7 linked regions of the Homo sapiens genome follow. The protein of the gene in region 7 purifies or fractionates together with the protein of the main gene of each other region. This does not show direct contact. Each region holds a gene or a part of one and is shown on either strand. Other genes may lie near its edges.

What was found.
Region 1: the proteins of DPH6 (region 7) and TMEM63B purify together in Homo sapiens (co-immunoprecipitation; one large-scale study listed by IntAct). This does not show direct contact.
Region 2: the proteins of DPH6 (region 7) and DHX8 purify together in Homo sapiens (affinity purification with mass spectrometry; one large-scale study listed by BioGRID and IntAct). This does not show direct contact.
Region 3: the proteins of DPH6 (region 7) and SLC60A2 purify together in Homo sapiens (affinity purification with mass spectrometry; 3 studies listed by BioGRID and IntAct, with this or other methods). This does not show direct contact.
Region 4: the proteins of DPH6 (region 7) and SRPRB purify together in Homo sapiens (co-immunoprecipitation; one large-scale study listed by IntAct). This does not show direct contact.
Region 5: the proteins of DPH6 (region 7) and HS2ST1 purify together in Homo sapiens (co-immunoprecipitation; one large-scale study listed by IntAct). This does not show direct contact.
Region 6: the proteins of DPH6 (region 7) and DAAM1 purify together in Homo sapiens (co-immunoprecipitation; one large-scale study listed by IntAct). This does not show direct contact.

The regions. Positions count from the first base shown.
Region 1 is NC_000006.12:44,148,054-44,151,553, reverse strand, and holds part of TMEM63B (mechanosensitive cation channel TMEM63B), read right to left. Parts: intron 3,303-3,500; coding exon 3,169-3,302; intron 3,042-3,168; coding exon 2,904-3,041; intron 2,763-2,903; coding exon 2,609-2,762; intron 1,696-2,608; coding exon 1,589-1,695; intron 1,331-1,588; coding exon 1,244-1,330; intron 991-1,243; coding exon 925-990; intron 1-924. UniProt on the Homo sapiens protein: Mechanosensitive cation channel with low conductance and high activation threshold. Osmosensitive cation channel preferentially activated by hypotonic stress.
Region 2 is NC_000017.11:43,490,475-43,493,974, reverse strand, and holds part of DHX8 (ATP-dependent RNA helicase DHX8), read right to left. Parts: intron 2,811-3,500; coding exon 2,725-2,810; intron 1,793-2,724; coding exon 1,683-1,792; exon of another isoform or gene 1,601-1,682; intron 1,314-1,600; exon of another isoform or gene 1,295-1,313; coding exon 935-1,294; intron 531-934; coding exon 386-530; intron 293-385; coding exon 89-292; intron 1-88.
Region 3 is NC_000006.12:111,265,839-111,269,338, forward strand, and holds part of SLC60A2 (sodium-dependent glucose transporter 1), read left to right. Parts: intron 1-37; coding exon 38-1,281; 3' UTR 1,282-3,500. UniProt on the Homo sapiens protein: May function as a sodium-dependent glucose transporter. Potential channels for urea in the inner medulla of kidney.
Region 4 is NC_000003.12:133,815,815-133,818,903, forward strand, and holds part of SRPRB (signal recognition particle receptor subunit beta), read left to right. Parts: intron 1-1,063; coding exon 1,064-1,118; intron 1,119-3,089. UniProt on the Homo sapiens protein: Component of the signal recognition particle (SRP) complex receptor (SR). Ensures, in conjunction with the SRP complex, the correct targeting of the nascent secretory proteins to the endoplasmic reticulum membrane system.
Region 5 is NC_000001.11:86,913,448-86,917,434, reverse strand, and holds the start of HS2ST1 (heparan sulfate 2-O-sulfotransferase 1), read right to left. Parts: upstream 2,801-3,987; 5' UTR 2,399-2,800; coding exon 2,275-2,398; intron 1-2,274. UniProt on the Homo sapiens protein: Catalyzes the transfer of a sulfo group from 3'-phospho-5'-adenylyl sulfate (PAPS) to the 2-OH position of iduronic acid (IdoA) or glucuronic acid (GlcA) within the heparan sulfate (HS) chain and participates in HS biosynthesis.
Region 6 is NC_000014.9:59,195,167-59,198,666, reverse strand, and holds part of DAAM1 (disheveled-associated activator of morphogenesis 1), read right to left. Parts: intron 1-3,500. UniProt on the Homo sapiens protein: Binds to disheveled (Dvl) and Rho, and mediates Wnt-induced Dvl-Rho complex formation. May play a role as a scaffolding protein to recruit Rho-GDP and Rho-GEF, thereby enhancing Rho-GTP formation. Can direct nucleation and elongation of new actin filaments.
Region 7 is NC_000015.10:35,539,666-35,543,165, forward strand, and holds part of DPH6 (diphthine--ammonia ligase), read right to left. Parts: intron 2,843-3,500; coding exon 2,748-2,842; intron 1-2,747. UniProt on the Homo sapiens protein: Amidase that may catalyze the last step of diphthamide biosynthesis using ammonium and ATP. Diphthamide biosynthesis consists in the conversion of an L-histidine residue in the translation elongation factor (EEF2) to diphthamide.

The sequences.
Region 1 (3,500 bases), on a different chromosome or scaffold from region 7:
CCAATGAGACCCTCAAAGAACCCAAAGGCTGACAGCCCCAGGAACACCCAGAAGATTCCCCCACTTAGACCATAACTCGAGTTACCCCCAGAGTGTGACATGAGCCTCAGATACCTCCACAAACAAGCTTTGAGACCCTTCCCGCAACATCTCTGGGGGAGCCCAGGAACCTTTATCAGTGCCTGAGATGCCCCAAGTGTGACTCAAAGATCACCACAGATGGCCTACAGCAAAACCCCTAGAGTTTGTGCCCACAGCCATGGTGCATGACCTTCAATATATCCTCACATGATTCCCAGAGAAGATGCCCATACAGAACTCCACAGTTACATCTCTGAATAAAAGCCTGAAATTTTAGAGATGTTCCCAGAACTTGTACTGCTAAACATCCCAAAGTGTGAGTCCTTTAGCCTCCCCGCCCACAGACACCCCCAGAGTTATAAGGTCAAGAGCCTCCTACACATACCCAAAAATATGGGCTCTAGAGACCTTCAGGGATACCCCTAGTAGCCTCCAAGACACTCCCTAAGTATCACCAAGACCTCCCTAGAGATGGTTCCCCAAACCTCCCAAGTGGAACTCCAGAGACGCCCACAGTTAGTCCCAGAATATGGGCACAAGACACCCCCATAGAAACTACCAGAATGTGGAGCCCCAAGCCCCAAATATACCTTGAGGATGATCTTAGCATCCAAACAGGTTACCAGAGAGTGAACACCAACACAGACCCCAGGGACTTCTACCATGTATACACACCCAAGACACCTTGTGGGTGCCTTTGGGGTAACCCCGCCAGATCCTCTCTCTTCTGCCCCCTCCAGGAGTTGGAAGCTTTGTTGCACCCTCCCATGGGGCTGGCAATGTCTCTCAAGCATACCCACCCCTGCTGTCTGGTCTCTTTCCCTAGGGGCCCCAGTCACTCACTCAAACCGAATAGCTGCCTCAGCCAAGAATTTCTTATCAAAGAGCCAGCGGAAGAAGAGGTCCAGGCTGGAGGGAAGCAGAGGAGAGATGGGGTGGGAGCTGGAGTGGTACAGAACACCAGGGGAGGGGAAGTCCCTCCTCTGTGAGCCACTGGGGAGACTCCCAGACATGGGGTGGGTAGCTCAGGAGGCCTGGGGGTGGCCAGGCTTCCCATCTTGGGCCCCTTGCTTTGTAGGGGAGGTAGGGAGGCTGAACTGCTCTCCTCTCCCTATCCTGCTGTCCCCCTACCCTGGCTCCTGCCCCATCCTTCTCAACTCACCTGCTCAGTCCCAGCGAGGGTAGGAGCAGCACCATGAAGATGAGGAAAGTGTAGCACTTGTGCATGGTTGTCCTGTTCTCCCCAGAGCTGGAGGGAGGGGAGCAGGGAACGGTACAGGTCAAGTGAGCCCAGGCCCCAGACTTGCTCCCCCAACAAGGACAATGTCCAAGGAGTGTCCCCTGGGAAGGGTGGGCCTCCCAAGGTGAGGGTGCTGGGCACTACCCCTTCCCTACCAGCTGTGGGACTGCCCAGGGCCAGGAGCCTGAAGGGCAAAGTGCTGCCCAGAGAGGATGGGTCATTGAGGGCAGGCCACAGCGAGGTGTGGTGTGAGTGGAGGCACCTTACCGTGTCCAGTGGGCTTCAAAGAAGGCTGAGTAGTAGACGATGGTGGGAAGGAGGGCCGAGAAGCACCACAGCAGCAGGGTGGGGAAGAACTGGGTGATGATGGGGTTCTGCAGCAGGGCACAGGGGGGCGTCAGGCAGGGCAGTCTAGGGGGCCCAGGTGGCTTTGCTTATGTGCCTCCTCCCCAGCTGGGCCCTTGGCCTCACAACTCTCAGGGCTCCCATGTTGGAAGCCCAGAACATCCGGAGGGCTGGGGTGAGGGTGGGGGCCAGGGCCATATGTATAACCCCAGGGTGGATAATACTGATAGTCAGCATTTGCTGAACATCTACTATGTTCTAAGCAGTGCTGATGTACTTGCCATGTCTTAATCCTCACAATAATGCTGTTACCCCATTTGACAGATGAGTAAACTGAGGCAAAAAAAAGATTCAATAGCTTCCCTAGCTAGCAAGCCATGAGGTAGGGATTTGAATCCATGCAGTCTGGGTCTTATCTATTATGGTATTATCACTCCAAGTGATTTGCAAACTGTCCTTCTTCAAACTCTGAGGTTCTAAAGAGGTATGCTCTATGCGTGGGAGGAGAGGTGAGGGGAGGCCAGGCAGACATGCATGCCACCCTACTGTCATCGGAGCAGCCCTGCTTTTCCACACTGGGTTTCACACCGATAAAGAGATCAGAATCCAAGTCCAAAGCCACTGATCTAGTTGAACCTTTCCATTTTTTCAGTTAGACTGAGGGGTGAGGGAAGGGGACTTCTCTGAGATCAGGACTAAATGCAGGCTCTCTCTCTTCCCTGGGTGTTTCTCCAGGTGTTGCACACCTGAGGGTGGCCTCTCTCAGGGGGAAGGTGGCAGGGAGCCCAAGGGAAGTGCACACAGGGGTTTTTGGGAGCTGGTTGGTGGCACGGGGTTGGAACAAGCAGAACGGGCTGGGCTGGGCAAGTGGAAGAGGGATCAGGGCCTGGTATCTGTGTGTTGTGACCCAGCGTGGAAAGTGACAGGGGCATGAGGCCTCACGTTGAGGTACTCCACAGGCTTGGTGACGTTGAACTTGTCCATGGTGGTGATGATGATGGCTGGAGTGGTGAGGAAGAAGAGGAGGATGAAGAGGACGACATTGATGACCAGGCAGCGCAGCCACCAGATGAAGCCTCGGATGGAGAGGTGCTCCCTGGCAAGGTGGGGAACCGGTCAGTCCAGGAACCAAGGGCAGGATTGGCCCCCAGTGACACCAAGACACTCCCTCTCCTCCGCCTACCTACTGAGCCCATCCCAGGCCCTGGAAAGCCTGCCCTGACACCTGTTTGCTCACCAGTAGATGTTCTGAGGGTCAGGGGCATAGGACACGGTCCAGTTGGAGATGTGCAGGGACTCGCTGCAGGATGAGGGGCGTGGCTCCCCACGGCAGGTGCAGCCCTGGCATTTACACACGTTGAAGTCCTTCAGGATGCTAGAAAGATGGGCACTGGTTACCACAGGCCCACCTGGAGGCCACACTGCTGGCAGAAGGCCATGAGCACAGGGGTCAGGGAGCCCTGGAGGGCTGCTCAGGGCCGAGGGCCGAGTTGGGGACTCACATGGCGGTGATAGTCTCATTGTGGAAGGTGACAAAGGCCATGCCAAGAGGCTTCTCATTCACCTTCTCCTTCTCCCGCTTGTAGTCTTCCTTCAGCTTCTGCTCCAGCTTTGTGTAGTACTCAATGGCCTCCACCTTTGTGGGAGGGTTAGGGACAGGGCCTCTAGTTGGAAAGCCAGGCTGGGGCCTGCAGCATCCAGCCCACGCTGACTTGGGGCTTCCTACAAGCCAGGCACTGCTCCTCTAAGCATTTTTTTTTTTTTGGAAACAGCGTCTCGCTCTGATGCCCAGGCTGGAGTGTAGTGGTGGAATCTCAGCTCACTGGAGCCTCAA
Region 2 (3,500 bases), on a different chromosome or scaffold from region 7:
TCCCAGGCCATCGTGCTCCAGGGCACACCCCTAAGCACCATGCTACATGCTGAATGACTATCTGGTCATGAAAACTAAAGGCCCCAACCTGTTTGATCTCCCACTTCTCTGGGTCAGAGATTCGGGTGAGGCGCTTGCGTTCCAGTGAGTCGTCCTCTACTTCAGGAGCACTGACAAGGGACAAGTGAGTGGGTCTATCAGGATTCCGCATTGAGGTCTCCTCATTGGTCTCCCCGACAAGATTTCGCCGTCTATTTGGGTTTAGATCTTCTCCAGTCTCTTGATCCACATCCTAAGGCACAAAAACAAGGGAGCTGTCTCACTTGCTGTCCTCTTCCATTCCCTTGGCCATCACATGTAAGAACAGGCTGACCATCTCACCTACCTTCATGCTCAGGCTGGTCTTGGTCCCAGTGAAGGACAGCACTTTGACTTTGACCCTCTGGCCTTTGCTCACGACATCAGCTACATTGGCCACACGACCCTCCCGCCGGAGCTCAGAGATGTGCACCAGGCCTTCCCACCGCTTCCTGAGGGAGAGCCAGACACATCTGGAACATGCCAAAAAATATTTTTCCCCCAACCAATTTCTACCCTTACTGGAACTAACAAAAGAAAATGGTCTTAAACTCAAGAGAAAAGTACCATGAAGGTGGTCAAACAATAAAATAGTATTAACACTCTCCTCATGGGGAGACATGGGGTGGGGAAGCAAATTCTATCTGTCCCAACAAGCAAAGGACAGATCTCCTGAAGACAGAGAAAGGAATAAATGGCTCTGTAACATTTCAAAAGAGTCAATTTCTAAGAACCATGTATGGCTGATTTGACTAAAGTGTCATTAATCAAAGTAACTTTTTAGAATGTGAACATCCTCAGTGATAAAAGAAATTCTGCCCATCACTGGTGTGAACAAAAGAGCACCAGTCATTACCTTAGTCCTTCCAGCTGCACAAAGCAACCAAACTGCATGATGCTGGTAACTTTGCCATTATAAATGTCACCAATGGTGGGCTCTTCTGGAGGAGGGCGGTCCACATGCTTATCCCGCCATCTATCCAGATTCCGCTCTCCATATTTGTCCCGGTCCTTCCGGTCTTTGGGGGGACTCTGACTCCTGCTCCTGGACCGATATCTAGACTTCACTTTATTCCTCTCCCGGGTCCTGGAACGTGATCGAGAGCGGGATCGGTGTCTCCGCTTGTGGTCTCTATCTCGGTTTCGTTCCCTATCTCTGTCTCGATCTCGGTTTCGATCTCGGCTTCGACTCCGCTTCTTCTTCTTTGTCCTGTCCCTAACAAATCAATAAGCACCTGTTTAAAAAAGAAACCAATCCGATTTCATCTTCGCATCCCCAAGCACCCAGTACAGTGCCATGCACATGGTAGGTACCCACTAGGTTTTGAACTGAATTAGAGTTTCAATAACTACGACATCCCTATAAGCCAATAAAGAATTGAGCCACAAACATATTCAGCCTCTTTCAACCCTGACTTCTATATTCTGAACAACCTAGCATTTGCTACATACACTTAGCAGGAAGCAATGAAAACAGATCCAACAATATGATATATGACCAGTCCAGATTCTGTAAACTTGCCCAAAATTTTGCTTGGCTGGTCCATAATATTCAACTGTCACAGTACCCTAAACTTCCAAAGGACAGGACACTAAGGACAAACCGGTGTTCAGCATCTCTTTGCTTCTCCTGGCCTGCTGCGCTGGGCATTAAAGCTTCCAGTTCTTTCAGGACATCCACAGCAACTTTCACATCATCTTCATCCAACATGGTCTGCAGAGGTAGAGGCCGGCAAAGTTAGGAAAAAAAACTACTCAAGAATCTGTATGTACCTCAGGTACATCTATAAATCACTAATCACTATGTGAGGGAAATAGAAGAGGGGCAGAGATTTCAAACTTGATTCAGGATAGATGCAGAAGAAATGGAAAAAAGGCTCTTGAGAATTACTGCTACATTTGACAAATCCCCTCTGTCCTTAATAGAATTCTATGAAAGGCAGTTAGATATTAATCATCCCTGCCATGAAAGAATGCAAGTGATGATTATATTAATAGAAAACAGGTGTTAAAAATTTTAAAAAGCAACTCTCCCTCTGCACTCTTCCTCCCTACCCCCACTCCAGCTTTATTTTTTTAAATAGCCCTTATTGCTATCTGCTATGTTACATACCTATTTGTTTGTTTATTGCCTATCTCCTCCCCACCAGAATGTTTACATGTTTATTTCCTGCTCCCTACCCCAAAATTAGGATATAATCTCCAAAGGCTGAAACTCTTGTCTGTTCTGTTCACTGCTGTTATCCAGGTACTTAGAACAGTGTTTGGCATACAGTAAGTACTCAATAAATATTTATTAAAATGAAATTTAAAAATCAAAATGCTTTAAAAATTAGACCTTTAACAAGTAACAGAGCAAAAAAAAAAAATCTAATTTCACACCTTAGGCATCTGTTCCAGAACCTTATTTCATATTCCTAATCACTACTTCCCCAAATTCCCAATCTCATTTCCCTTGAATATCATTCTCAGAACCCCTTAACAAATTCAATACATAGTACATGCTCAGGGAGTGATCAAACACTTTCATTCTTAAAAATAAGTTACAACAAAGGCAAACTTAAAATTAATAAAATTACTATGAGACAAAGAAAAGGGGTTGAGAATATATATTTATAGTAGACACTCTTAAAATGGTATCAGTACCCGAACAGAAGGGTTGTCCGGTTGGCAAAGGACTGGGAAGAGTTCCTTCAGCTTTTCTTTTTCTGTTTTAGGTTTAACAACTGGATCTTGTTTCATTAAAGAGCATGAAGGGGTTAAAAAAAGAGATATATATTTAATATTATTAATGATTAACAAAATAACTTCAACAATAGATTTGTATCAAACTGAAACAGAACATGGCATTTTGCTATATATTAATCATACCTGTTACTATAAATGTAATTTAATTTTCTAAATACATTGATCACAAACTATCTCGAAATGTAGCAGAAAGAGGAGTGTAGCAATACTCATTGGGTTATGTCTTATCTTTTTTATTTTGTCTTAAGTCGTTTGAAATTTTTTTTCCCCTTGAAACGGGGAAAAAAACCTCTGTCACTCAGGCTAAAGTACATTGGTGCAACTATGGCTCACTGCAGCTTCACCCTTTTGGACTCAAGCAACACTCCTTCCTTAGCCTCCCAAGTAGCTGGAACTACGGAGGCACGCCATCATGCCTGGCTAATTTTTTTATTTTTTTGTAGAGATGAGGTCTCTCTATGTTGCCCAGGCTGGTCTAAAACTCCTGGGCTCAAGTGATACTCCCACCTTGGCCTCCCAAAGTGCTGGGATTCCAGCAGTGAGCCGCTAGGCCCAGCCCATTTGAAAAATCTTACTGGAACATTTACTTGCTCAGCAACTGCTGAGAGGAAAACAAATGCAATTTACAGGATGTTCAAAACCTACACCATTCTAGAAGCTAAGCTCAGCTGGAA
Region 3 (3,500 bases), on a different chromosome or scaffold from region 7:
TTTAACTTAAATAATTTTTCCCATCTTTCATCGACAGGTGGTAACGTCCTTATCTTGGCTATTTGGGGGGACAAAGGAGCCCCACATATGCAGGCCTTACACTTCTCTTTTGCCTTGGGTGCCTTTTTGGCTCCACTGCTAGCTAAACTGGCTTTGGGTCCGACAGCGTCTGCTGAAAACCACACAGAGTCTGACTTCCATCCTGCACTCAACCAATCATCTGATGCTGACTCAGAAGCTCTGTTTGGAGTACCTAATGATAAGAATTTACTGTGGGCTTATGCTGTTATCGGTACTTACATGTTCTTAGTTTCTGTCATTTTTTTTTGTCTGTTTTTAAAGAATAGCTCAAAGCAAGAAAAAGCAAGAGCATCTGCTGAGACATTTCGAAGAGCAAAATATCACAACGCCCTTCTTTGTCTCCTTTTTCTGTTCTTCTTTTTTTATGTTGGAGCTGAGGTAACATATGGCTCTTATGTTTTCTCATTTGCAACCACCCATGCTGGCATGAAAGAAAGTGAAGCTGCTGGGTTGAACTCCATCTTCTGGGGGACATTTGCAGCCTGCAGGGGCCTGGCAATCTTTTTTGCTACCTGTTTACAGCCTGGAACCATGATTGTGTTGAGCAACATTGGCAGCCTGACTTCATCTTTATTTCTGGTGCTTTTTGACAAGAACCCAATTTGTCTCTGGATAGCAACTTCAGTGTATGGGGCTTCAATGGCAACCACATTTCCGAGTGGTGTTTCTTGGATTGAGCAGTACACGACCATCCATGGGAAATCTGCAGCATTTTTTGTAATTGGTGCTTCCCTGGGAGAAATGGCTATTCCTGCAGTCATTGGAATTCTTCAAGGAAAATACCCTGATTTGCCTGTAGTTCTGTATACCTCTTTGGGAGCATCAATAGCTACTGGTATTTTATTTCCTGTGCTATATAAATTAGCCACTTCACCTCTTGATCGCCAGCGAAAAGAAGACAGAAAGAGTGAGGACCAGAAAGCTCTGCTCTCTAGCTCCGGGCTAAATGAATATGAGGAAGAGAATGAAGAGGAGGATGCAGAAAAATGGAATGAAATGGATTTTGAAATGATTGAAACGAATGATACAATGAGGCATTCTATAATAGAGACATCTAGAAGTAGTCTGACGGAGCCCACAGCTGAAGTCTATAATCAATACCCATCAAATGCACTGGTGTTTGAGTCTTCTCCTTTTAATACTGGCAGTGCCCATGTGAAGCACTTGCCAGAAACCAGGACAAAAGGGACTAACGTTTAGAGAAGATGGATTACTCACTGACATCTTTGAATAACTGCCACTTCTAAGGACGCCATTCAGAGCAGAGCATTAGCAGAATTTCACCATGCTTTGGGGATTAAAATTTTTAGGTCCATATTATAGCAAATGCTAAAAATTTTTGAAATGTTCTGTAATTCCCAGAGTCTTCCATAAATAACCAAATGGTCTCATACACGTACAATAGGATCTTGTTATAACGCTATCATTTGACATGTGACTGATTAGGAAATATTTTATGGTCTCCACCCCTCAGAGCACCCAAAGAAGGCATTGTTTTTGAGAAGGGGGGTATTCTCAGAATGAGACCATGTAGGAGTTGAATTGATTGGTTGAACAAATTATCAGGTATCAATATTTTTCCAGGAAAGTTGAGGAGAATAGTTTCATAAAAGAGAAATGGGCCGGGTGCAGTGGCTAAAGCCTGTAATCCCAGCACTTTGGGAGGCCGAGACGGGCAGATCACGAGGTCAGGAGATCGAGACCATCCTGGCTAACACAGTGAAACCCTGTCTCTACTAAAAATACAAAAAATTAGCCAGGCGTGGTGGCAGGCACCTGTAGTCCCAGCTACTTGGGAGGCTGAGGCAGGAGAATGGCGTGAACCCGGGAGGTGGAGCTTGCAGTGAGCCGAGATCATGCCACACCGTACTCCAGCCTGGGCGACATCTAGACTCCGTCTCAAAAAAGAAATGGAGAGGTATTTTTATTAATTGCTTTACCTTATCTGTAGGGTTGGATCAAAGAATGTAATGACTCATTTGATTTCTAATTTCAATGAAGAGAACACAGAACAGGGCCCAAGGGGTCGGGCTTCAAGCCTTGACTTCTTCTAGCCCTGCACTCTGTCACTTAACGTAGGCCTTGTTTATCTCGCCTCCTGATCTGTGATTCTAGAAATGAAAATGAGATGATTTCCAAATTGGGAATCTGTAAGTTTTAAAGTTTGTGCAAAATGTCTGCTAGAAATTAGTACAAGTGACAGCATGTTCTTCATTTCAAATGAGAAGTGAAACCAAAATGATAAATAGCTTTAAGAATGTGCTAATGATAAATGATTACATGTCAATTTAATGTACTTAATGTTTAATACCTTATTTGAATAATTACCTGAAGAATATATTTTTTAGTACTGCATTTCATTGATTCTAAGTTGCACTTTTTACCCCCATACTGTTAACATATCTGAAATCAGAATGTGTCTTACAATCAGTGATCGTTTAACATTGTGACAAAGTTTAATGGACAGTTTTTTCCCATATGTATATATAAAATAATGTGTTTTACAATCAGTGGCTTAGATTCAGTGAAATACAGTAATTCATTCAATTATGATAGTATCTTTACAGACATTTTAAAAATAAGTTATTTTTATATGCTAATATTCTATGTTCAAGTGGAATTTGGAGACACTATGTTCTAATTTTAAGAACTGTTTCAGTGTTATTAGATTAGTAGTAGGGCTGTAGATGGGGTCTTTCGAGGTCCTTTGCCTACCTCAGTAACAGAGGCTGGGTCTGAGCCTTGCTCGAGATTAGCTCTTCACCAGGTCTGTGTGGTAATCATATCGTAGTTACCGTAGGTCACGCTGCAAGTGTAATTTACAGTGAGGCATAGTCTTTTCCAGTGATTGGAATACTTGTGTCACCGATCCAGGGTTTCTCTTTCCTGAGTCTGAAATACCTGGGAAACCAGTTAGAAGGTGACTGGGTAGCCTAGGAGTCAAGGATCAGAAAGGGTACTTCATATATATGTGGCAGAATTGGTGCAGGTGATCCTTTGAAAAATGACAAGAATTGATGAAATTTTGTTTACTTCCTCCAATTTTTTGCTGAATAACATCTCCTTTCTACCTGATTGGAGTAGGCTTGCTTTCTCTTACTTAATTTCTATAAATTTGCCATTGTTTTGTCTCAAGTAAAATACAGTGTCTTTCTTGACCACTGCCCGCCCATTCACCTTATATGCCTGCCACAGTCTTGGTTCATGTAATAACCTAACAGCTTTGGAGATGGCGGTGGAGAAGTTAATGGTAAAAACCTTCTTGCTCTTTTTATTTTTATTTATTTATTAGGGGTGGGGGATGGTGTCTCACTCTGTCACTCAGGCTGGAGTGCAATGACGTGATCTCAGCTCACTGCAACCTCTGCCTCCCTGGTTCAAGCGATTCTTCTGCCTCGGCCTCCTGAGTAGCTGGGATT
Region 4 (3,089 bases), on a different chromosome or scaffold from region 7:
TTGAGGATGAGATACAATTGCTGTAAAGAACTATAAATTGAAGGATTTTTAATCTTAAAATTTATTTCTACTCCTACCTTTTCACCAGTCTTCTAACCAGAAGACCAAGGAATGATAACCAAGTGACTGCTAACTGATTTTTCTTTGATACAGTGTTTTTTCTGATTATAAATTATTTTACTTTACCAAGTTAAGTTCATCAGATTGACAATATGTGATATCAGATGCACAGTTTTGCAGGGTGGAGTTTCTGCTTTCAAACAAGTTTACTGTACAGCACATTTTATCAAGGGAAGTTTGCTGAAGTTGTTTTCTTTTAACCTGATAACCATTGAAAACTTTTCTAGTAATCCCCAATAAAACTGGGCTTCAGTTCCGTTACCTGTACAATAAGACAGACTAGTGGATCTCTTCAGGTCTCTTCCAGATCTGAAATTCTGATTCTATGAAGAGTTCAAGGCATTTCTCAGAAGTGACCAGATAATATTGATAATGCCTTATTGGGAATGCAATTAGCGTCATTACCTGACCTCTTTATTTCCCTGATTGAATATAAGGAAGGGAGTTATTGTTTATTTGCCATGGGCTTTGTGCCAAACCAGAGCTTGTTTCTTACCTTTAGTACACTTAATGCTTTAAACATACCGTCTTAGGATCAATTGGAAACATGCTAAGTTTACTTTAAAATGACAGATAGGGCACTGTCTTTTGGCATGTGAAGGCACTTCTCATAATCACAGCACTGGTAGGTTTTCTTTCTGTTAAACTGAGTAAACTTATATGTTTTGAATTGAAAGGTCTATAAGGTGTGGAGAACTTTAGGGAAAGCTAAAGTCAGTTTTAGGGTCACCAGCATAATATGTTTATAAGCATTATCTTGGGAAAGCCCCTAGTGCAAGTATAAAGCTTACTTTGATAGAGAAGGAACTAGTGATAAAAGGTCTTTTTTTAAAAAAAGAGAAAAACTTACTGGTTTAAATAGGAATTTTCCTTCTGTGTAAGAAGTCTTGGGGAAAAAACTCATTCTCGTTTAAACTACAACAGTGTCTTTATTTCTTTACAGATATTGCAATGGCAAAATCAGCAAAGTTAATTCAACAGCAGCTGGAGAAAGAACTGTAAGTGTGAAAGAGGCCTGTTGGTTAATTATATATCTTAACACTTAGACTGTAAGCAGCATATTCATGTTTCTTTTGTTTGGTTTTATGTGATTATCACAATTATAGACTGAAGATTAGTGTGATAAATATTTGTTAAATAATTTACAAAATAATGGAATCACAAAAACTTACTAGGGTGCTTATAGATATTTTAAAATTTCATGGAAAGAAGATTTTTTTGAAACCATAAACTTAATTTATTTTACCATTGTTACTAAATCATTTATAGTTGAAAGGTTTTAGAAGCTAAAAAAGTTTACATGCCAACTTGAGAACGGTGTTATTTCAGTGAGTGGAAGTGTTTGTTCACCACTCAATAATGCCTGTGAAGTGGTATTTAAGGATGCATGTAAATAATAAAAAATAAAAACTGAGAATCAGGAAAAAAGAAATTAAAACATTTAAAAGCCACTTTGGAAATTATTGTTGACAGAATAAGAACAGAACACTGAGGAAGACTACAAGTCTTTGATACTACATTATAGCTTCTTAGATTGTTAAAATACTTGGCAATATTATATATCCTGCTTTGAGTGTTTCAAGGTTTGTAAATTGAGCTATAAGCTTTTGAATTTTAAGGCATCTAGCATGTCTTCTGCGTTATGCCAATTTGTAAGAGCTAGCCAAAAGCTGGTGTAGAAGAAATGATCAACATTTATAGTAAAGCAAGTTATGTTTTCTTATTGCTTTTGTGTAAGGCCTTGAAAAGGATCTGATGAGGAAAAACTGTATAAATTCAACTTTTAGAAACTTTTCTCCCCACTATGACTTACTGACTCCCTTATTCATTTAAGAAGCACCTGTAGTGCATCTAGTGGATGCCAAGACTGCAGTTGGGAGCAGCTGTAGGAGGAAATGTGTTCCTGTACTCAGGAGCTTAGAGTCTGGTAGAATCTAGTCAGCTTCGGGCATTGGCAAACTCCTGCCTGGGCCTGCAAGCCAAGAGTAAATCGACATTTTTAAAGGGCAGGTAAAAAACAGAAGAAAAATATGCGACAAAATATTTAATTTCTGGCTCTTTGCAGAACAATTTTGCCAGCCCTGCCTATGCCATTTTCAGTGGTTCCTTTCCCGTCTGGAGCTGCGAGTTTATCACCCTGTCCTCCTGTGCTCTTGATGCTCACTCTCTTGGATTGTATCTGTTGCTGCCATTAGGTTAATAAGGACATTGGAACAATTGGATGGTTGGGTTTTTCTAAAAATTCTCTTGAAATTGTTGGGAATTGTTTTGGGGAAGCCAAAACTGTCATAATGTTATTTGTGAATCAGTCTTGGGTTATTTTTAACAGTACAGTCCAAGTCTCCCGTGGTTAAAACACATGTTTTCCATAGGCTGTTTGCTTTTCACTCTATAGACTTAGAGAAAAACAATACAGAAGCCAATCCTTTTTTAAAAGCATTGAAAGGCAATGCTTTCTTAAAAGGCAGTGAAACAAAATGTTGACAAATTGTAAAGGTTAACATCAGTTAAAATTCGGAATCTGACTAATTTTAATCTCAGATTTATGAGAATTAGGCCCTGTTAGCTTAGAGGCATTTCATAGTCTCTCAATAACACGGTATATTATATTTACATGGCCTTGTGGCAAAAGCTGAATACATGTTTTACTTTTTTCCTTAAAAAATTTTTATTGTAAAATATCTTACTTATAATAGTATATATGTCACATGCATTAAGCTTAAAAAATATTAAAATGAATACCTATGTACTCACCACCATGCCTAGAAGGCCCCTGTTTCTCCCCAAAAGCTTTTCCCTCAAGAGGTCAGCAATATCCAGTTTTGTATTGTTTTTTAAAAATACTTTTACAGTGTGTGTGTGTGTGTGTGTGTGTGTGTGTGTGTGTGTTCCTTCCTAAACAAGGTATTGCTTAGTTTTGCCTGTGGATTCTTCACTAATTTTGAAGCAACTTTACAGAACAAGAAATG
Region 5 (3,987 bases), on a different chromosome or scaffold from region 7:
CGGTTCTCATGCCTTAGCCTCCTGAGTAGGTGGGATTACAGGCGCCCGCCACCCCGCCCGACTAATTTTTGTATTTTTAGTAGAGATAGGGTTTCACCATGTTGGCGAGGCTGGTCTCGAACTCCTGACCTCAAATGATCCGCCGGCCTCGGCCTCCCAAAGTGCTGGGATTACAGGCGTGAGCCACCGTGTCTGGTCAAAAATGGCTTTAAATGGTGTTCTTACTTTAAACACGAGTATCTACGATGAAAAGTGCCTAGTACAGAATATGGTTGTCAAAATATGGTTTCCTCTGCTAGGCATGGTAACACCCACCTGTACTCCCAGGTATACCCATCTGTAGTCCCAGGAGGATTTTGATGCATATTTACTACTTTTTATGAAATTTTCTTTCTTGTATCACAAGAAAGCACTTTATATTTTAACTGTGGCATTATACATCTTCAGATAACTTTCTTTTAAAAATCATTCAGATTGTGTCTATGGAAGCAATTTTCAAGTATATGGGGAAAGAAATGTTAGGAAAGGAGGAAAATCAAAAATTTAAGTCATTCTAACCCACTGTAACGTGTCTAAGAAATCAACTCCAGACAATTCCAAATAGTAACAAAACAAAAAATAAGTACAAATTTTAATTTTAATATAACTTTCCACTTCAAGAGGAGTCTTTTTTTCTGTAGAGCTGGATCATTAATAACGCCAGAATATGACCCTGAATGTCGCTAAATGGATCCAAAAGAAAAGAAAAACCAGACTGGATAACCTTCAATATTTAAAGTGGACATTTTTTTCCACCACACAAGATACATATTAATAAAGGAATTCGTAAATAAACTGAGTATCTCTTCAAATTTTACTCTAGAATTGAGGGCTGGAAGTAACTCTAGTTTTCCTCCAACTTTAGTTGCACTTCACTCAGATTTACTTGATGGTTTTTCTTTCAAGGCTCTTTAAAATGTCAAGGCTTTTGCAAAGCCTTGTACCAAAATAGCTACTATACATAATATTACAATTATTTTCTGGTACATTTTTCCTAAAAATTAATCATCCACTCACAGTAACATCTATTTCTTAGTCTAAATTACACTGCTGAGGGTTTTTTGTTTTTGTTTTTGCTGGCTTCTCAAAAGGTATTTAAAATGATTTTGAGGTGAGAGTATGCAAAAAACACTTCACATTACTTTTCCATATTCAAATTACATCCTCTTGAGCTGATTTTTAAGTGCCATGTACATTTTTAAATCAAAATTTATCACTGTCATTCTTTTAACTCTCGCTCTCCATGCTGAGCTCTTCCAAATGCCAAAGTGCCCTATTAATCCGAAAGTACCTATTATCTGTGCTTTTTTCTGGCCTGTCTTTCACAACTTCACACCAACTTTTTGTACTTTAGACCCCCTCATCCATTAAAGCACCTGTTAACCCTTTAAGGTATTTAACCATATGGTTAGCTTTCCGCATAATCCTACTTTTCCTTTAACAAACACAAACTTCACTACATAATTCCCCTTCAGCGTTCCCTCCTCTTCGAAATTCACATCAACACTGCCGTGAAGCAACATACATAGGCATCCCTATTCTCAAGCCCCAATTCATCAGTTTAGCGCCACTAAAGAAGAATTTAAATCTCCGGACCCTCATTTCCGTACTCCGATGAAGCTTTGCACTCGCGTTCCCGCACTACCCGGCCAGCCTCCCTCAGCTGGCAATTACAAGGTCCTTTGCTGCCCGGAGCACAAGAGTGCAACTCGCTACAGTGTTCACATGTTGCTCTCCGTCATCCCAGCATCTCCTCCCATTTCTGCGCACCTATCCCTTCATGAGCCCCCAAAAGAATTCGTATCCAGATGCCCATAGCTCAAATTAGAATACCCCTCATCTGACATTGCCAGGGCTTCCTGTACGACTTCCAAGAGAACACGCGATGCTAAGCGCTTCTGTCTCCGGAGACCAGCAACACACGCTCCCCACTGAGTTCGGTCTTCTCTCTCGCTCTCTCTCCGCGGAATGCCTACTTCGGGGCTACCCTTTGGCTAGGGAAGCCCAACCTTGCAACCTCTGCCCCGTGACCTCGCGAGCCCAGCACGCCGCTCAAGCTTAATTCAACCCATTCTTGGAGCTCGTGCTCTCGCTGCCCCTTGTTCCCGGTTCTCTTTGAAACCGCTTTCAGCCCCCGAGCCAGACCCCAGGTTAGATGAACGCCCACTTGCTCCGGCGGCAGCGCCTCCTCGGCCCCTTCCACAGCACTCAGCCCGGGGCAGTTCAGTTCCTCACCTAGCTTCGAGCGGGACTCCTCCAGTTTCTGGATCTGGTTTTCCAAGAAGAGCATCGCCACCGCGAAGGCCACCACCGCCAGCAGCTGCAACTTGGGCGGCATCATAATCCTGAGGAGCCCCATGAAACCCGCTGCTCGGGATCAAGACATACCGCGGGGGGCGGGGAGCGGGACCCCGGAGGCGAGAGAGACGCCGGGAGGAGCCCGCCGAGCCGGGAGCGAGGCAAAGAGAGAGCGACAGCGAGAGAACCACCGCAGCGACCCCCCTTCTCGCCTCTCCAGTCCCCCTCCCCCAGGCGCTATCACCAACGCCGCTGGTGTCCGCTTCTCCTCAGCCGACTAAACGGCCGCCCCCTCCAAAAGCCCGCGCAGCAAACAGCGCGAAGCGGCTGCCGGGCTCTCGCCTCCCTCTACTGCCTCAGTCCCCGACCCCCGCGCCCGCCTGCTTGCCCGCCTCCCTCTCTTCCTTCCTTCCCTCCCTCCTTTGCTCGCGGCCGCGCGCCCCTCCACCGGCGCTGCGGCTGCGCCGCCCTCATCCCCGCCCCCGCCCATCCCCCTCCGCCACCACGCGCACGCATCCGCGTACGCTGCTCGGCAACCAGAAGCCCCGCCCCTCCCCCCGTTCGGGTCCGCTTATTGGACGGAAGAGCCCCTGCGCTTCGCTCTTGGTTCGGTTTACGGTTGGTTTCCTCTGCCACAGAGCTCAATCAAGACGACATTCAATTGGGTAAACTTGGAGAAGAAGGCGGGGCTAAAACTGGCGAAGGCGTGGCTTCTTGGCTGCTTGACGAAGTGTCGTGAATAAAAGAAAGGAGACCGCAGAAGTAAAGAAGTGGGGAGTTTAGGCAAGTGCCTGATTTGGGTAATCGAAAGCACCCAGTGATTGTATTTGATGACTTTTAAGCTTTCATATGCCGTTATTTAATACCTGTCACTTCCAAATGAGAGATGTAAGGGCAACGGCCGTTAGCGTTCTGTTTTGGATCAGGCTCTGGAGTGGACGCCCCTAGCTTAGGGGTCCTTCTAGGCAGCCAGAAACCTGCGGAAAATGGTAGCGATGGCGGCTGGGCCGAGTGGGTGTCTGGTGCCGGCGTTTGGGCTACGGTTGTTGTTGGCGACTGTGCTTCAAGCGGTGAGTGTAGATCACCTTCGCAGCTGCCACAGGGAGAGTAGGAGTGATTGCAGCTGAGAAAGACGCAACATTCGGTCCTGGTTGAAAAGGGTGGGGAGGACTGCGCTTCCTTAATGACTGCTGCGGCCAGAATGCAACGTGGCTTAATTTCTCGGTTGATCCTTCTCCTTCCCCGCCTTGGGTTTCTAGCAGCAGTTTTCTCTTGATTTCAGATTGTCTTGGGTACGTAGCTTCTCTTATACGGCTCTTGCTAAAAACAATCTGTAAACCACACCAGGTGGGAGGGGGGAATAATAAAGCTTGGCAAGAAGTGGAGGTTGTTTTTAAATGGACAGAAATGCAAGAGACTCATGACGAGACTTCCAACTCTTAGAGGCAAGTCTTCAAGTCGTTGGTCCAGGCGAACAGTTTGTGTTTACCTCTCTCGCGCGCGTGCTCTCTCATTTTCACTACTTCTGTTAGTCTCTTAACTTCCGTTCTCCTCTGCTATTCATATACGGCTGGCTGCGCTTGAGTGCGATTTGTGCTTTTAAACAATGTTGTTGGAGTAAAAGGAGTTATCTATACCAAAGTATAATTC
Region 6 (3,500 bases), on a different chromosome or scaffold from region 7:
AAAGTCACCCACATGTTTGCCCCACATCACTGTTGTAAAATCTCTTTATCCCCTAACAGAAGCATTAAAAGCAGGTTAAGTATTTCCACCCCTCCTTCCGGATCAGGCTGTAGAGAAGAAAGGCAAATCAGCAAATGGGGCCAGGCACGGTGGCTCATGCCTGTAATCCTAGCACTTTGGGAAGCCGAGGCAGGCGGATCATGAGGTCAGGAGTTCAGGCGGATCACAAGGTCAGGAGTTTGAGACCAGCCTGACCAATATGTTGAAACCCTGTCTCTACTAAAAATAGAAAAATTAGCTGGGCATGGTGGCGGGTACCTGTAATCCCAGCTACTTGGGAGGCTGAGGCAGGAGAATTGTTTGAACACAGGAGGCGGAGGTTGCAGTGAGCCAAGATTGCACCACTGTACTCCAGCCTGGGCAACAGTGCAAGACTACGTCTCAAAAAAAAAAAAAAAAGAAAGAAAAGAAAAGAAAAGAAAGGCAAATCAGCAAATGGAAACACAAGAAGGAAGCCCCAATGTGAATGTCCCCGAGTGTACGCATGATTTCTGTTGGAGGAATTCCTGGCCTGAAGAGACAGCATAAACAAAGGCCATCCAGAGGGAAACAAATGATAAGATAAGTGAAACCCAGCAACTCTCTCTGTCCTCCCCTCTACCTACTTCCCTCAACTTGTTCGTCAGAAAAACAATCTGAGCTTGACAGAATTACAATGTAAGCCTTCCTCTCCCAGCTGCCTCACAGCTCTCATTCTAAGCTAGAGGGTTAAGGGGGGAAGACATGCTTTTCTGTAAGGTCAGTGATGGGGCTCCCAAGATATGGAACTTGGCAGACTGGAGACAGCCATCTCACCCTGCCCACAGAGAAGCCAAAGGAGCAGAACTGTCAAACTGCAATGCAGGGAGTATAGAAAGAAAAGGTAAGGTATGGAAGAAACGTAACTTCAGACACAGCCTGAAAAGAAATTGGGTTAAATATAAAACTATATACATTTTTAAAAACATTTTAACCAGCCCTTAGCAGAAAATATCATAGGCAAGGCAGTTTCCTGCCACAGTTCCTAGAACTTCCATAGTTGGAAGTGTTACCTACTCACAGAATCTCAAGCCCTAAATGGGTCAGAGTATTTCCAGTTTAATCTCTATTCTTGATTTTTAAAAGACGAAAATATAATAGCAGGCCTGTTCATTTAACCTTCTGAGAACATGGTGCGGTCAGTCTCAGCCATTGGCTTCAATTCCAGCATTTATTTATTGCATGTCCTCCAACTTTTAGTTCACATTACCAACAGTGCTGAACAAAGTACCTCTAACGCAGAAATGACTGCCACACAAACAGGATGGGGAAACCAAACAGAAATGGTATTGTTGTTTCTTTTCCACCATCAGCCTAAATCAAATAGCAGCCACTAATAATGAGTTAACTGTAGTTGCATTTGAAAAAATAATTCCCGCGGTGGCTCACGCCTGTAATCCCAGCACTTTGGGAGGCTGAGTCGGGCGGATCACGAGGTCAGGAGATCGAGACCATCCAGGCTAACACGGTGAAACCCCGTCTCTACTAAAAATACAAAAAACTAGCCAGGCGTGGTGGCAGGCGCCTGTAGTCCCAGCTACCCGGGAGGCCGAGGCAGGAGAATGGCGGGAACCTGGAAGGCGGAGCTTGCAGTGAGCCGAGATCGCGCCACTGCACTCCAGCCTGGGCGACAGAGCGAGACTCCGTCTCAAAAAAGAAAAAAGAATTCCAAATGGGTTGCCTTGAACAGAAATGTATGACATTTTCCATATTCACAATTTCACCAACTTTCAAGAATAGAGAATGCAGCAAGTTTCTTCAGTTTAAGCTGTTTCATTTCCTTTAATTTCTTACAATTAGTTTTTTTGTGGGTTTTGTTTTTTTGTTTTGTTTTGTTTTGTTTTTTGAGACAGAATCTCGCTCTGTCACCCAGGCTGGAGTGCAGTGGCAGGATCTCAGCTCACTGCAAGCTCCGCCTCCCGGGTTCACGCCATTCTCCTGCCTCAGCCTCCGGAGTAGCTGGGACTACAGGCGCCCGCCACCACGCCCGGCTAATTTTTTGTAATTTTAGTAGAGATGGGGTTTCACCGTGTTAGCCAGAATGGTCTCGACTTCCTGACCTTGTGATATGCCCGCCTCGTCCTCCCAAAGTGCTGGGATTACAGGCGTGAGCCACCGCACCCGGCCCATTTCTTACAATTAATTTTGTAGTACATTCTGGGGATTTAGAAGGGTCCCTGGTCTAAACCTCTTGTTACAGAACTGCGGGTTCTAACTTGTGTCTAAACATTTCCCTGCTTGGTTTTACCAAATCTCTATGAAACTAATACAAATTTAAGCTTAGGCACATATGAACAATCTATCTCATCTGGTGAATAATGTTGACCACCATCCTTTACTCTTCTTCTTGGGCACAAATATCCAGAACTTTATCTAAGAGTAAGTCCAGAAGTAGCACCCAAACACACATTGATGGCATCTGTCATTCTGCCAAGAAAGGAAAAAGATCAAGGCTATTGGCTTTGGCAAACTTTCAAGAAGCTGCCCCTAGTCCTGACCTAATCTTCACAGGAGGACAACTGTCAGAAGCATACGGTTCCTTAGCAAGCTGCTGGCAGTCTTGCCTCTCACTTACAGGGTTTTCCTACCAGTTCGCTTTAAAATATGGCACCTTTTTTTGCCCTTAGTAGTGATAGCTGTGCACTGATATGTCCACAATGTACAGTCTAGTCCCCAAAAGCATGATTAATTTAAAAAAAAAAAAGATACAGAAAAAATCTGACTAGAATTACAGGTACAGTTTGTGGCTCCAAAACAAGGCAAAGCTAACCCATGCCCTTGACCTGGTTTGTATGTCACTAACAAACTGAGCTAGCCAACAAGCCAGAATATAAGAACCTATCTCAGAAAATAAAAGATGGGCATCTGTATTACCCCAACAATGCCCAAAGCTAGGATCTGGGCTATCTACTCTTGTAAGCCTAAATTCAGGAAGTCTATCAGATAGGCAACATTTTCCAATCACACTGCAGGTATTTTTTTTAGACATAAAAATGACAAAGACCAGTTTAATAGGTGACCTTAATTGTGTGCCAGCAGAAATACAGGTAGCCTTAAAACCCCAATCCTGGTGTAATTTATAGAACAGAATAAACCCAGGTTATTACTAAAGGTGAATGACATACTTAAAAAGTATAACAAGATGAGGCCAGGCGCGGTGGCTCACGCCTGTAATCCCAGCTCTTTGGGAGGCCGAGGCAGGCGGATCACGAGATCAGGAGATTGAGACCATCCTGGCTAACACGGTGAAACCCCATCTCTACTAAAAATACAAAAAATTAGCTGGGCGTGGTGGTGGACACCTGTAGTCCCAGCTACTCAGGAGGCTGAGGCAGGAGAATGGCGTGAACCTGGGAGGCGGAGCTTGCAGTGAGCTGAGATCGCACCACTGCACTCCAGCCTGGGCGACAGAGCAAGATTGT
Region 7 (3,500 bases):
AAAAAAATTACAAAGTAGTTATTTTGACATATACCTATGTGTGTATGTATGAATATAAGCCAAACAGGTCCAGGCTTTCCATTAAATGTGAAAACTTCCTATCAAAAGGAATGAAAAGTGATAGTGCAAGGGCCCCTTCAACAATCAAAATCATCAAAATCTGCTACCCCATTTTGGCTGACAGGTTTCTGAACTCACACATTGTTAGATTGGCTTCCTTCAGAATATTACTCACATTGTTACTATAAATGTTTCCACTCCTGGTCCCAGTAGGAAGTAGAGAACATAGCCAAAGTTACCTAAAAACCTTTCGGCCTTCTCTCGTCTCAAAATTAGACTGGATCTTTAAATACATTCATTTTAAAGGATATTGATACAATCAAACCAATTTACTCAAAGAAATTTGGGCTTCTTGGCAAGAAACATTCTGATGTTAGCATAATAAGTAAAACATCTCACTGGCTTCAAAAACCTAGAAGATAATTTTCTTTAAGGCTCTATTTAGTCCTAACCACATTGTAACTTTGATTAATGGAAGCTACAGAGCAACAATAGTGTGAGATCAAATAAAACCAAAGGCTCCCCTGTTGCCTGAAGCAACTCAATTAACATGCCACAAAAGTTCCTACTACAAATCTAAAGAGATGGTTTTGTGAATTTTATGACAAGTTCGCATTATCCTCATTGATGGGAATAAATTCCTTTTCACACCACCCATTGAAAACCCGTAACTTTGCTGGACATTGGAGTCATCTCTACCAGTCATTCCTCACTAAGGTTTCTTTCATAACACTCATAGGAAAATAAGTCATTCAGTGAATTGTTCAATAATTCCCAATGTCCTGCTGATTTTCATCAAGATGAGCTAAACCATCTCCATCTACCAACCCACAGCCATCTGTTTTCTTCTACAACAATTACTATTGTTTCGACTGCCTTTTCCAGGCTTTTTACTTCAGAATATTCTAATTCTATTTACTATCAAATTTTTTCTCACTAACAATATTCTAAATAAGTGTCTCTATTCTACTGAGAGGTATAATTTAAAAATATACTTTGCTTGTCATTTTACCACCCTGCTGGTGAACCATGAACACAAGGAAGATTATATATTAATGGTTCTGTACTAGGTAAGTAAAATAATTCATGTGAAAGCTGAAAACAAGATAGAAACTCCAGTGATGAAATTATAATATACCATGTATGTATTATATACTATATAAACATCTGCTTTTTAACTTCACAAGATAGCTTGAAAGTCCCAGTTGCCTCCCCCTGGCCACAAGGGATAAGGGAGTTTCTCTCTTTTGGTAAACCTAACAGGAGATTCTGCTTCTTCTTTTATAATACAGAAGTTAGAGTGCAGTTCCTATTCATCCTCAAAGAATTTTCTCTTTCTTAAAGTTGGAACTCTTTCAAAAAACATCACTTCTAAAAAACCATCTGTTACTCATCAATTGCAGCACAAAATCCAAACATGTGCATTTACCTCTGACTCTCTGTGGGACCTTTCCATTTCTTCCTATAAAATATTTCTAAACTCTGTCTTTCCACACGACATCCAGCATTACTTACATCTTAATCACAGAAGGAAAGAAGATTCAAATATCTGACTGAAATAACTGCTCACTATTCCAGGGCTAATCCAAATTAGTTCATTATACACCTGTCCACCAATCAACCTTGCGTGAACTCCTACCAGAGGCATAGAGCCGGCCCAAGTGATGAGGAGCAATAAAAGGAAGATAGAAGATATGATCTCTCTTCTCAAGAAGCTTATAATCAATCCATTTAAAGATATAAAACAAGTATTTAGCTAGATTCCAATTCAGCTAAATTTACAGAATGCCTACTTCATGACAGGAACTACGACTGATGTTCTCACATACACCACTCATTTAATTAATCTTAAAATAACAGTGCAAAAACATGGAGCCTGGAAAGAAGTAAAAGAGAGAATAAAAAGATCTTACTAGAAAAGTCCTGTGAGAAGCAGTAATACAAAAGTCACAAAAGTGCTAATCTTTTTTCCCTCTTACATTTTAGCAGTTAATATCTGTAGTTTCATAGGTATAACACAATAGCATTAAAAAGCAAATTGGTGAATATATTTCTTTTTTCAAAAGCTATAATTGGGGATATTTCATTGGAGAAAAGAATGAAAAAAGTAGTCAATATGAGGTCTGTGAATTATATGTGGATGCCCTTGTTACTACAGACAAATGAAAAGTGGGAATGCATTGCTTTATGCTTCTCTCAAGTCTCACATTTCTGGCTTACATCTAAAATAGGTAAACTGTATCCTTTTAATAATAAAATTAATATATCATTTATCAATATGTGTCTTACTTCTCAAGCTCCTTGAGGCCTGAGACTGTATCTTATCTACCTCTATGCTGCCTACAGTACTTGGGAATGTGGTGGGGTAAAATGGTAGTGTACTTTGAAGTAAGAAGGTTCAAGTCTTAACTCTACAAGTTTGTGCTAGTTTACTTCAGACAAACTCTAAGCTTCAGGATCCCTGTCTATTAAGATTAATAGTGCATCTCTATAGAAGTTGGTTATGAGAATTAAAAAGTAAGTGAAAACACTTAATGCTAAGTTCTAGGTGGAAACTAGCATCTAATGGGTGCTTAATATTTATTGGTTCTTTTTTTTTCATCTTTGTACGGTATACCTGTACAATGTAATTATGAAGTTGGAATTTCATTCATTTAGGCAACTTCCCAATAAAGGCATGTACTTACCTTGGTTTTCAGCTGGTCTTAGATTTGCTAAAGCAACGATCTGATGCCCAGCAGCAATGCACTGCATCATATTATAGCAGCTGTCCTTCCCACCACTAAACAATAAATCAAGAGAGGGACAAATATCATGCTACTGACCATTATTCAACATAAAATCACTAGATATCAAAACAGAACATATCATTTACTTGACTCTTCAGAATATATTACAATGCAAAAAAAACCCATTAATTTCTAAATCATAAACAAACTGAGCAACCGAATCTGAATGTCTAGGGCTGCTACTCACAGGAGCTTAAGAAACTATATATATATAAGAATATTCTAAACAAAATATGGTAACTTTTTGCTTTGTGATAGCAAATATATTTGAAGTGATTTGCAAATAGAAAATGATTTCAATTTACATCCCAGCTAAACATTTATTATATAATTATATATGAAATATATATATTCTACCTAAGGAATATATATAATAATATATATTATTCCACTTAAGGAATATATATAATATATATTATTCCACTTAAGGAATATATATATATATATATATAAAATAATTTCATAGAAATTATTGGGAAAAAAAAAACTATTCTCTATGAGAAAGTAAAAAAAAAAACAAATTCTGCTCCACCATAAGAAATCTAACAAATGGCTACCATCAGCAATTAAAGGATCAAATTAAAGATTTGAGTACCTAGCTAATGACAAAGTTTGACACACTTGGTGGGTTCAAATTCTGCAGAGATAAAA